3 linked regions of the Homo sapiens genome follow. The protein of the gene in region 3 interacts with the protein of the main gene of each other region in a biochemical or structural test. Each region holds a gene or a part of one and is shown on either strand. Other genes may lie near its edges.

Region 1 (3,657 bases), on a different chromosome or scaffold from region 3:
GTGTCCCCCTCAATCCCACTTCCCACTGGGCAATCTCGTTTTATTAAAAAATTATATGGTACATGTTTTATTTTTCAACTTGTATAAAAACCCATAATATATTTTACAGAGCTTTTGGAAAGTAGTATCAAGCAATTATAAGTATTTAGCCTAAGAGTATATGGATTTTATTAATAATTAATCCACATCTCTATTCAAATGCATTTTCCCTCTCTCTCTTTTGACCAAAACTCATGCTGTTAGCTGAGAAAATTCCCTTTTCATAGTTCAGTCCATTTGGAATTTGTTGTCTTGTTCATTGGTTTCTTCCGTGTTTAACAATAGCAAAATTTAATATATTTGGAGCTTTTTTGAAACTTTCACTCAATGGTTAAAGAACTCATAAATAAATGTGAAATTATCAGAAAATGTGCATAGCTCAAAGGTGTTTCCTAAGAAGGGGAAGTAACTTCCTCTAAGTTATCTGTTATTTCTGGCCACAAGGTCACTAATAGGCTGATGTGTGCAACCAAAATTATTGAAAAAGTGTACTACCAACTCGAAGCAGGTTTTTTAAAACTTCAGATTAAAAAGACAATGTGTTGAATATAGAAGACCATGATAAATGAGCAATTTCATTGTAATACTCAAACCGGGACTCACTCACATTTTATATTTTAAAATAAAATGGTAAATATTGGGAAAATTGCGTATTTCTATGTGAGGGCTGATCGTGAGTTAACTGGCTGACTTGCAAGGCTTTCTGGCACTTCCCGTCTCCCTCCCTAGCCCGAGTGATTGTGGAGGGTCCCTGCAGCTAACAGAGTGGGGTGAGCAGCCGGTGGCCATGCTTCCGGAACTCTCTCCATCAGGAAGGAGCAGATGGATGTGAACCAGGAACACATTCATCCACAGAAAACCCAGCCTCTGCTGTGAGCGGGGGGCGAGGGAGGAAGGTTAGCCAGGATGAGGCACGGTGTTAAACCCTACTTAGGCTCAGGCAAAATAAATACATAACTAAGTCAAATGTAGAGGCAACGGTTAGAGATAGAAAACAGGCATTTGGTTAGTGACTAATTTCATATTCTCCAAAATTATAGCAGAGGTTCCCTCTGAACAAAAGCTCTCAAAATGTTACAGAAATTCCCTCCTGCCTTTTGCAAACATACAAAGTCTGTAGGAAAACAAATCAAATAGCCTAAAAGTTTATTGGAAAGGAAAAAGAAAATTCCAACTTATCCTAGCAAATATTTCTTTAAGAATAAAAATGGAAAAAATTAAAGGAGGTTGCTAAGGGCCCTTTTATATCGAACATGCTTTTAGTGTCTACAGAGTCAGCACAGCGAATATATTGGGACCAACAGAAGAAGACTGTAATCCGGCAAATGTGAGCTAAGTTATGGCTAAAGGCAAATTCTGCACGTCTCCTGGTTAAAAAGGAACCCTTTGATAATCAAAGTGGGGTGCTTGGGAAGCGCTCAGAAAACCAAAGGGCTTCACCTTCCTTTAGGCTGTGGTACATTCCTAAGTATCCGAAAGTATTCTGAATCATCTACCTGCGTTCTGTCTTCCTGGCACGCGCTGACTGGTTTCCCATGAAAGCATGCAACCTGTACGTAAGACCCTACGCTCTTGCTGGGAGGCAGGGGCGGGGCCAGCATTACCTGTGTTTCTAGCATGCATTAACCGTGGAGAGTTTTGTAAGGCTTTATCAACATCATCTGAAGTCAAATGTGGAAGAGGAGCTACAAAACAAAACAAAAAGCGACATCAAAATGAAAAAAAAAAGAGAGAGAGAGAAAGAGAATTACCTTTCTTACAAAAAAAAAAAAAAAAAAAGAAAGAAAAAGAAAGAAAGAAAACCGTTCCCCCACTCCCACACTAACATCATGGGAAGCTTATAACTATTTCCAGCAACCTGCTACTTGTTAGCATGTTAAAACCTACATGGGGGCCCGTCTTTAATTCAGGGAAGAAGTGGTTGGGATGCCAGGCAAAGCAATGGAGGAGAATTTATCCACCTCACTGTCTGTCACACTACTTCCTTCTCACCATGCTGGACGTTGTAGAAATTAAAGCATGCAGCAAACATTCTGGATTCATGCCAACATGCCATCCCTTTCTGTCAGGTTAAGCCGAATCACATGATACAAAGTGAAAACTTCCCTTGTTCTGTGCTCAGGTTAGAATATAAAGTGGGGCTTCATGTAGCTTTAGGGAGAATAATCCCCCTAATTCCTACGAAAGAGAAGCCTTAATGATTCTATTTCGATTCGGGGTATCATGGAGACTTAACTAATGTGTGACCAGTTAACGCTTCCTTTCCCCTTTGACATTCCATCTTCTTGGTCGCAGGACCCTGGAGGAGGCAGCTGAGTGTTGAAGTGAATTTTGGCTTCTCCTGAGAGCGCTGACTACTTCTCATCAGGTGATGTGGCCAGGGTGTTGCTCCCCTAAGTCATCACATACCAAGCATGTGGCTCCCTCGGATCCCCAGTGGGAACTGGGCGAGGGCAGGAGGATGCTGTCGACACACCTGGTTGAACCCTCTGAAGCTCAGGTCATAAGAACCATAGCCACAGCCATCTATCCTTGGAGGAAGGGGGAGCTTACTCTCTCTGAGGTAGTGGAGATGTGAGAGAAGGATGTCGGCGTTGTAGCTGGGGGTGAGCCTCTGGAAGTCGTCCTTGGTCATCTTGCACAGTTCCTTCCCATCGATGTTCTGGAATAACAAGATGTTGACGTCTGGAAGGCCATATTCTTTCACCGCCCACTCCAGCCACTGCCGCACATGGTCTGTACTCCATAGCGTAGGATCTGAAAGGGGTGGGAACACATTCAGTCAATTCCTGAAGCCAGGGATCTTCATCTTGGGGTAGATCCCCATCCACGTGGGATTTCTGACCAGCTGCCTTCCACAAGCACAGCCTCCAGCCAGCCTCCCTGGCTACCCAGGAGAACATTTTGGGGGAAAGACAAAAGCTGCCTCACATCCATAGATCATTGTCTTTAAAGTGAATAGTTCTGGAATCTTGGGATTATTCACATCACATGCCCTTGTTTTTGCTCAATCTAAAGTTTCCTGTAGGCATAAGATTTTAAAAATTCTTTTTTCTCATTTATGTTCAATTTTATTTATTTATTTTAAAATGAGTAAGAATAAGAGGAAACTTCTTTTCCTTAGAAAACTACTGGTATATTTATATATATTTATATGGAAATAAGAGTAAGCCACACATATCAGGAAGGTGCTAATTACAGATCACAACAACAACAAAAATAATAATAACAGTATTTATGCAAAATACTGAAAAATACTGACCACAGAATCGGAAATGAAATATAGATACACCAAGACTCTAGCCCCTCCTATGAGCCAGCGTTCCTCATAGAGAGCTGTCAGTTCCAGACTTTTCCTGCAGGGTGTTTGGTTTTGCAATTAACCAGCACCTGCAGGAGTGGGGTTGGTGAGTGGTTTTTGCATTCCACAGCTGGCCATGGCGAGCACAAACACCCCACAGGATGCAGGCCACGTCGTCACACTCCAGTGCTACCTATGGGACAGGGAGAGCAGGGCCCGGGGGAGAAGGAGCAGGTGATCTCCAACAGAAACGCCAGCCGGGATGTCCTGTGGTAAACACCCTCAGTGGTAGGGTCTTCAGAGTGTGGTAAATGGGG
Region 2 (3,163 bases), on a different chromosome or scaffold from region 3:
ATCTTTCTGCATTATCAACCTCCTGACAGTGTAGAACCCAAAGTCCTCAGTAATATTCCAGCCATAGAGTACAGTGTCAGCCAAACCCTTGAAGGCGTTCTCCAACCAGGCCTAAATGTCCAGTACAGCCACAGTCAAGAGAGAATTCACTCTCCGAAGGTTTCACCATCCATGTCAGCACTACACTGGTAGATGTATAACAACCAGTTTGTGGGGAGGAACTGATCTGTAGTGTTTGCTAGTTTCTGTAAATAATCCTACCATGGCCAATTTCAAGCTACCAACATGAAGTCACTTAATAGAGTTGGAAAAAGGTGCCAATAATTGGCTCTCATTAGCCACTAGGAACTGGTTCCAACACACCACTAAGTAGGTTTTCCTAGAGTCTGATAATCCCCGTAAGAGCACCATTCCTTCCACTGTCCGATTCCTTCAGCCTGCTATAACTGAGTGAGCATTAGGTCCATTTTTATTTCAGTCAACTTGTGCAACAGAAGAAAGATTCCAGGAGGCCAGGAAATATTTTATTGACAACCAGGGACACAGTCATAAGAGAGGGAAGCACACAGGACTGCAAACTAACACCCAGTAGCCAGCAAGGGCCCTCTGGGCCAGGAATACTGAATCCTGGGATCCTCACAGTCTCCCACCAGTAGACATACATTACTGGGCATCCAGGGGAGGGGGCAGTGGCTATGGTGTCCCAGAGAGTGAGAGGATATATGATGCCTCATTATGAGCGACAGGGTAAAGAGGTAAAATGGAGGGTCCATCACTGCCTAAGACCACCTCCTCCTCTCAGAGCCAACACCAGGTGAAGGACTGAACCACCTAAAATCTTGTAATCAGCTGCTGTCTTCTCATCATTCCTGCAGGAAAAGGAAGCCAGAAAAAAAAGAAAAAGAAGACTTAGGAGTTTTTTGTTGTTGTTGTTGTTGTTGTTGTTGTTGTTTTTGACAGAGTCTCGCTCTGTCATCTAGGCTGGAGTACAGTGGCACGATCTCAGCTCACTGCAACTTCCACCTCCTGGGTTCAAGCAATTCTCCTGCTTCAGCCTCCTGAGTAGCTGGGATTACAAGCGCCCACCACCACGCCCAGCTAATTTTTGTATTTTTAGTAAAGATGGGGTTTCACCATGTTGGCCAGGCTGGTCTCGAACTCCTGACCTCAGGTGATCCACCCCCTTCAGCCTCCCAAAGTGCTGGGATTACAGGCGTGAGCCACTGCGCCCGGCCAGAACAGGAGTTCTTGAGTTTCCTGGATCTCTTTGGGGGTCTGTGAACTTGAATGAGAAAAAAAATCCCATCTTTATTTTTACTAACCCCCAACTGAAATTTAACATTTCTTCTAACTTTAAACATAGCCCAAAAACCACAGTAGTATTAGCAATATAGGTAACTTGTTAACAATAGCAATTAACTATTTTCTATCATGATCATTTATAGGTATCTTGAAAATATTTCAAAATTATGGTCATATTAGACCTACCATTAGATCTTATGCATTAATAAAAAAGTACATATATTACTATATCACAAATTTGTTTTAGTATTTTAATAACTATTTCAATATAATTAGTTTTCCTTTAATTCTATATATTTTGTTTTATGCCTGAAAAAATCTTATTCTGAGAAGGGGCTTAGAGGCTTCACCAGATTGCCAAAGAGTCTTAGGCACCAAAAACAAGAGGCACCCCTGATCCACCTCAGTACGTGCCCCCTCTCCTCTTCTCATCTTCACATAAGATCGCCATGCTGTCATTCTCACTCCAAACTCACATCTGCTTGCCACTGTAGATGAGCCTCTGCTGTTGTGGGGGGATTCCCTCTTTCTCCTCCACACGCTCCTTGATTCGCTCCACCTTTAGAGAGACAAGTAGTCAGGGGCTGCTGCTTAGGGGTAGGACCATGGAAACGGAAAGAACAAGGGCTATGCAGACAGCATGAGAGCAAAAGGACCAAGTTCATAAGCATATGCAAACAAATACACATGGCAAGAAGTACATGAAGAGGAGTTGGGCATGCATCACCTTGTCTGTAGGTTCAATGTCAATCTCAATCTCCTTTCCGGTCAGCGTCTGAAACAGGCAATGGTTTCATGAGTCCTTAAAGCCCAATGTACAATTTGTCTTCTAGGTAAAACATCCTATGTTGGTCTTTGGGATCTACTGCCTTCTAAAAGATGCATATTCTCAGCAGCACTGCTTTGGAGAATGAGAAGGCTTTGAACATACCTTCATTTATCAAATATTTTTAGGCTGTAAACAACTTTGATAGGGCAAGATTCTTTGAACCATCTGATCCTCTTAATTCCATGAGTCATCTTCCAACATCAGTCCCCCAAAATCAGTGAGAATATTGGCATTATTTTAGATGATACGGCAATGAAAGGATTTATTTATTTATTTTTGAGATGGAGTTTCGCTCTTGTTGACCAGGCTGGAGTGCAATGGCACAATCTCGGCTCACTGCAACTTCTGCCTCCCAGGTTCAACCAATTCTCCTGCCTCAGCCTCCCACGTAGCTGGGATTACAGGCATGCGCTACCAGGCCTGGCTAATTTTGTATTTTTAGTAGAGACAGGATTTCTCCATGTTGATCAGGCTGGTCTCAAACTCCCAACCTCAGGTGATCCACCCGCCTCAGCCTCCCAAAGTGCTGGGATTACAGGGGTAAGCCACTGCACCCAGCCTGAAAGATATCTTAAAAAAAGTCAGAAGGACCTTGTTCTAAATATCAATGCTAGAAATTAATATTCAGATAATTTGAAGAATTCTCAAGGACACCAGAAATCATCTCAGCAGTTTTTTAAAAAATGCTAGAATTGGCTGGGCATGGTGGCTCACACCTGCAATCCCAACACCTTGGGAGACTGAGGCGGGAGGATCACTTGAGCCTAGGAGTTCCAGACCAGCCTGGACAACACAGCGAAACCCTGTCTCAACCAAAACAACAACAACAACAACAACAACAACAAAAATTAGCTGAGTACAGTGGTGCATGCCTGTAGTACCAGCTATTTGGGAGGCTGAGGTGGGAGGATCACTTGAGTCCAGAAATTAGAGGCAGCAGCAGTAAGCCACGATTGTGCCACTGTACTCCAGCCTGGGCAACACCCTCGCAAAAAAAAAAAAAAAAAAAAAAAAAAGAAAGTAAAAGAAAAA
Region 3 (3,657 bases):
GTGTGCCTGTAGCTATTATCTGACATGTTTCTAACCTACTCAACAAATACAACTCTTTGTGGCCAGTTCCAAACAACTAGAGATCTACTACCACAATTATTCACACTATTTTGTGAATCTCTACCCACTATTCCAGGAAGAGGTTTCCTTCCTAGATAGCACTGAGACAGAGGTAAATATGCATTTGGAGACCTGGGAAGATTGTAACAATCATGCAACCAAACTTTCAATTCTATAAATAAAAGAATGGCGGCCTAGAAAAGCAAGTTCACCTAAGGGTATTTTTCAAAAAAACATACACATATAGCATCAAGGGCTAGTTTTCCAAAAATTACTATTCTAAAGGGTAACTTTTAACAAAAAGAAAAAAAAAGCCTATAACAAAACCCAACATCATCAAGATATAGTACTAGTTTATATTTATATAAAATAAAAATTTAAAGACACTTTCAACTCTAACTTGCATAATTTTTCTATACAGTTTTTCATTTAAATCCTTTAGTTTCAAGCACCATAAAAATATAAACATAGTCAAATATAACTCCGTAAACATCAACACAATATGAACTCCAAAAAAGTAAAAGTAGTAGAAAAGATTCAGGCCCTTATATTTATTGACTACCTACTGTGTGACAAATACATACAAGGTACTTTCACTTATATTTACTTTTCTAATGCCACTATAAATGAGCACTTTTAATTCCAATTTCACAGATTAATTAAAATGTAAAAAGAAAACACTTTTTTAAATTTAATAAATGGAATAAGAAGGGTCACAGAAAAAAGTAATTTGAAGAGAGCATTAATTCACTATTTCCATACACTATCCTGTTCTCACTTTAAACTTAAATGAAAATGAAAAGGTTACTAAAATTATACTGACTAAACAAACACAAAAGTATTTTAAATTGAGTTAATTATAGGCATGAACAATTTAGTAAAAAATAATTGTTTTTAAGGCAACCCACATTTACTAAATAGTGGTTTGTCTATTAATAAAAGGGTTTTGTTTTAGTCGTCTGAAAATGTGACTGGCCTCTGCCTTTCTATTGCCACACTGTTAACTTTACAACTATGAAATCAGTAGTCAAATCTATCAATATTGCTATCAAAATTCAATACTATTTCAAAATGAAGAAAATGTAAATACTTTAACAAAAGAATCATGGGAAAGGTACTAGTAGCTCATGTGTCAGCTAAAAGACAAAAAGATGTGATTTCTAATATCTGCAAATATTTTAATACTTATGAGCTAATCCATCATATTTTTATATACTATAAAATGTGTTAACAATTCCAAAATAGAGAACCTCCATAATGGTTCTCTCTTTTATCCAGTGATGCTTATGTTTTCTTCTTAGATCACAGCATATTTAAGGCCAGAAACCATAAGATAGGTATTATAAACAAGTTAATCACCTAAACAATATCACCCAAAAGAATCTCTAAACTATATCAAAAAGACAAGCACTTAGATTTGTAATGTAACCACACAAATCCCATAAGAGTATACTTAGAAAACTGAACAAAAAAGAGTGTACTTACAAAACTGTGCTTGCCAGAGCGTGAAGTAGTTGATAATGATGGCATTAAATAATAATCAATAAGCCCTTTCTTAGCAGTATTTAGTGCTTTAAGGTTGCAGAAGCACACACTTAGAAGGGTAAGGTGAAATGGCATCTTCACATTCACCATATTTCGAAAAAGTTTCATAAGTATATCAACCATTGGGGTCATCACATCATAATTTCCTAAATAAAATGTTTAAGAATAAACATTATAATTAATATTAAGAGCATAATATATTTTATATTGCTGAGATTAAGAAATTAAAATCCTAAATATCACTGGGCATCTTGACATTATATACCAAATTAAGACATTTCAATATTAATACTAAATGGTTAAAAATTTTCAAAAGATTTGAAATATGGGATTTCTGGTTATACTACACTGATATGGTCAGAAAATCCTCTCTCAAAAAGCTACTATAAAACTGAACAACATTGTCAAAAACAATCATTTTGGTGGAAATCTGGAAATGAACCAAAGGCAAACAAAGTGAGAAGTACTGATCTATGAACAGCTGCTATATGTTAGCTAAGAAAGTAGGAGATAGCAGCTTCACTGTCTGGGACTGTTCGAATGTCCCTTTACATAGCTCAGTTGGTACAGGGTGAAGGCTGCAAAAGCCAGCAGTTTCACTTCCAGAGGGGACAGACCTGATTTGAGGCAGTGGGCAAAAGCCCACACTCAGCAGTGTTGCCAGTAAAATGAGCAAATTTGATAGGAAACGAATGGGAAGATCCCACAGCTCTGCTAGTCTGAAGCTTCAGTCGTGGTTCGGGTGAAGGACAGATCAGTGGACCAGCCAGATATGTCACCAGGAGATTTGGAAATGAGAGAACCAAAGAGGGACTACATAGGCTCCCCGTACAACCCTAGTTGACTAGGAGGCTACATGCAAATAAATGGAAGGCCACAGAGGGCCCAAGCTCCCCATACACTCCTTACTGAAAGGGCTACATGCACATCATGGGGAGATAAAGAGGGCCTAGCAGAAATTAAAATTCAAGAAAAACTTGAAAATGGCCTAATTTTTTTTCTTTTATACTTTAAGTTCTGGGGTTCATGTGCACAATGTGCAGATTTGTTACATAGGTATACATGTACCGTGTTAGTTTGCTACACCTATCAACTCTTCATTTACATTAGGTATTTCTCCTAATGCTATCCCTCCCTCAGCCCTCCATCCAGATAGGCCCCGGTGTGTGATGTTCTCCTCCCTGTGTCCATGTGTCCTCGTTGTTCAACTCCCACTTATGAGTGAGAACATGTGGTGTGTGGTTTTCTATCCTGGTGATAGTTTGCTGAGAATGATGGTTTCCAGCTTCATCCATGTCCTTGCAAAGGACATGAACTCATCCTTTTTTATGGCTGCATAGTATTCCATGATGTATATGTGACACGTTTTCTTTATCCAGTCTATTACTGATGGACATTTGGGTTGGTTCCAAGTCTTTGCTATTGTGAATAGTGCCACAATAAACATACGCGTGCATGTGTCTTTATAGTAGCATGATTTATAATCTTTTGGGTATATACCCAGTAATGGGATCACTGGGTCAAATGGTATTTCTAGTTCTAGATCCTTGAGGAATCACCACACTGTCATCCACAATGGTTGAACTAATTTACACTCCCACCAACAGTGTAAAAGTGTTCCTATTTCTCCACATCCTCTCCAGCATCTGTTGTTTCCTGACTTTTTAATGATCGCCATTCTAACTGGCATGAGCTGGTATCTCATTGTGGTTTTGATTTGTATTTCTCTAATGACCAGCAATGATGAGCATTTTTTCATATGTCTGTTGGCAGCATAAATGTCTTCTTTTGAAAAGTGTCTGTTCATATCCTTTGCCCACTTTTTGATGGGGTTGTTTGCTTTTTTCTTGTAAATTTGTTTAACTTCTTTGTAGATTCTGGATATTAGCCCTTTGTCAGATGGGTAGATTGCAAAAATTTTCTCCCATTCTGTAGGTTGCCTGTTCACTCTGCTGATAGTTTCTTTTGCTGTGCAGAAGCTCTTTAGTTTAATTAGGTCCCATCTGTCAATTTTGGCTTTTGTTGCCATTGCTTTTGGTGTTTTAGTCATGA

What was found.
Region 1: the proteins of POLI (region 3) and ERG form a complex in vitro, tested with the Homo sapiens proteins (one large-scale study listed by BioGRID).
Region 2: the proteins of POLI (region 3) and NEDD8 form a complex in vitro, tested with the Homo sapiens proteins (2 studies listed by BioGRID, with this or other methods).

The regions. Positions count from the first base shown.
Region 1 is NC_000021.9:38,400,914-38,404,570, forward strand, and holds part of ERG (transcriptional regulator ERG), read right to left. Parts: intron 2,797-3,657; coding exon 2,593-2,796; intron 1,725-2,592; coding exon 1,644-1,724; intron 1-1,643. UniProt on the Homo sapiens protein: Transcriptional regulator. May participate in transcriptional regulation through the recruitment of SETDB1 histone methyltransferase and subsequent modification of local chromatin structure.
Region 2 is NC_000014.9:24,216,355-24,219,517, forward strand, and holds the end of NEDD8 (ubiquitin-like protein NEDD8), read right to left. Parts: intron 2,078-3,163; coding exon 2,030-2,077; intron 1,862-2,029; coding exon 1,779-1,861; intron 870-1,778; coding exon 773-869; 3' UTR 503-772; downstream 1-502. Other genes in the region: NEDD8-MDP1 protein, read right to left, coding at 1,779-1,861, 2,030-2,077. UniProt on the Homo sapiens protein: Ubiquitin-like protein which plays an important role in cell cycle control and embryogenesis via its conjugation to a limited number of cellular proteins, such as cullins or p53/TP53.
Region 3 is NC_000018.10:54,289,927-54,293,583, reverse strand, and holds part of POLI (DNA polymerase iota isoform a (long)), read right to left. Parts: intron 1,752-3,657; coding exon 1,546-1,751; intron 1-1,545. UniProt on the Homo sapiens protein: Error-prone DNA polymerase specifically involved in DNA repair. Plays an important role in translesion synthesis, where the normal high-fidelity DNA polymerases cannot proceed and DNA synthesis stalls. Favors Hoogsteen base-pairing in the active site.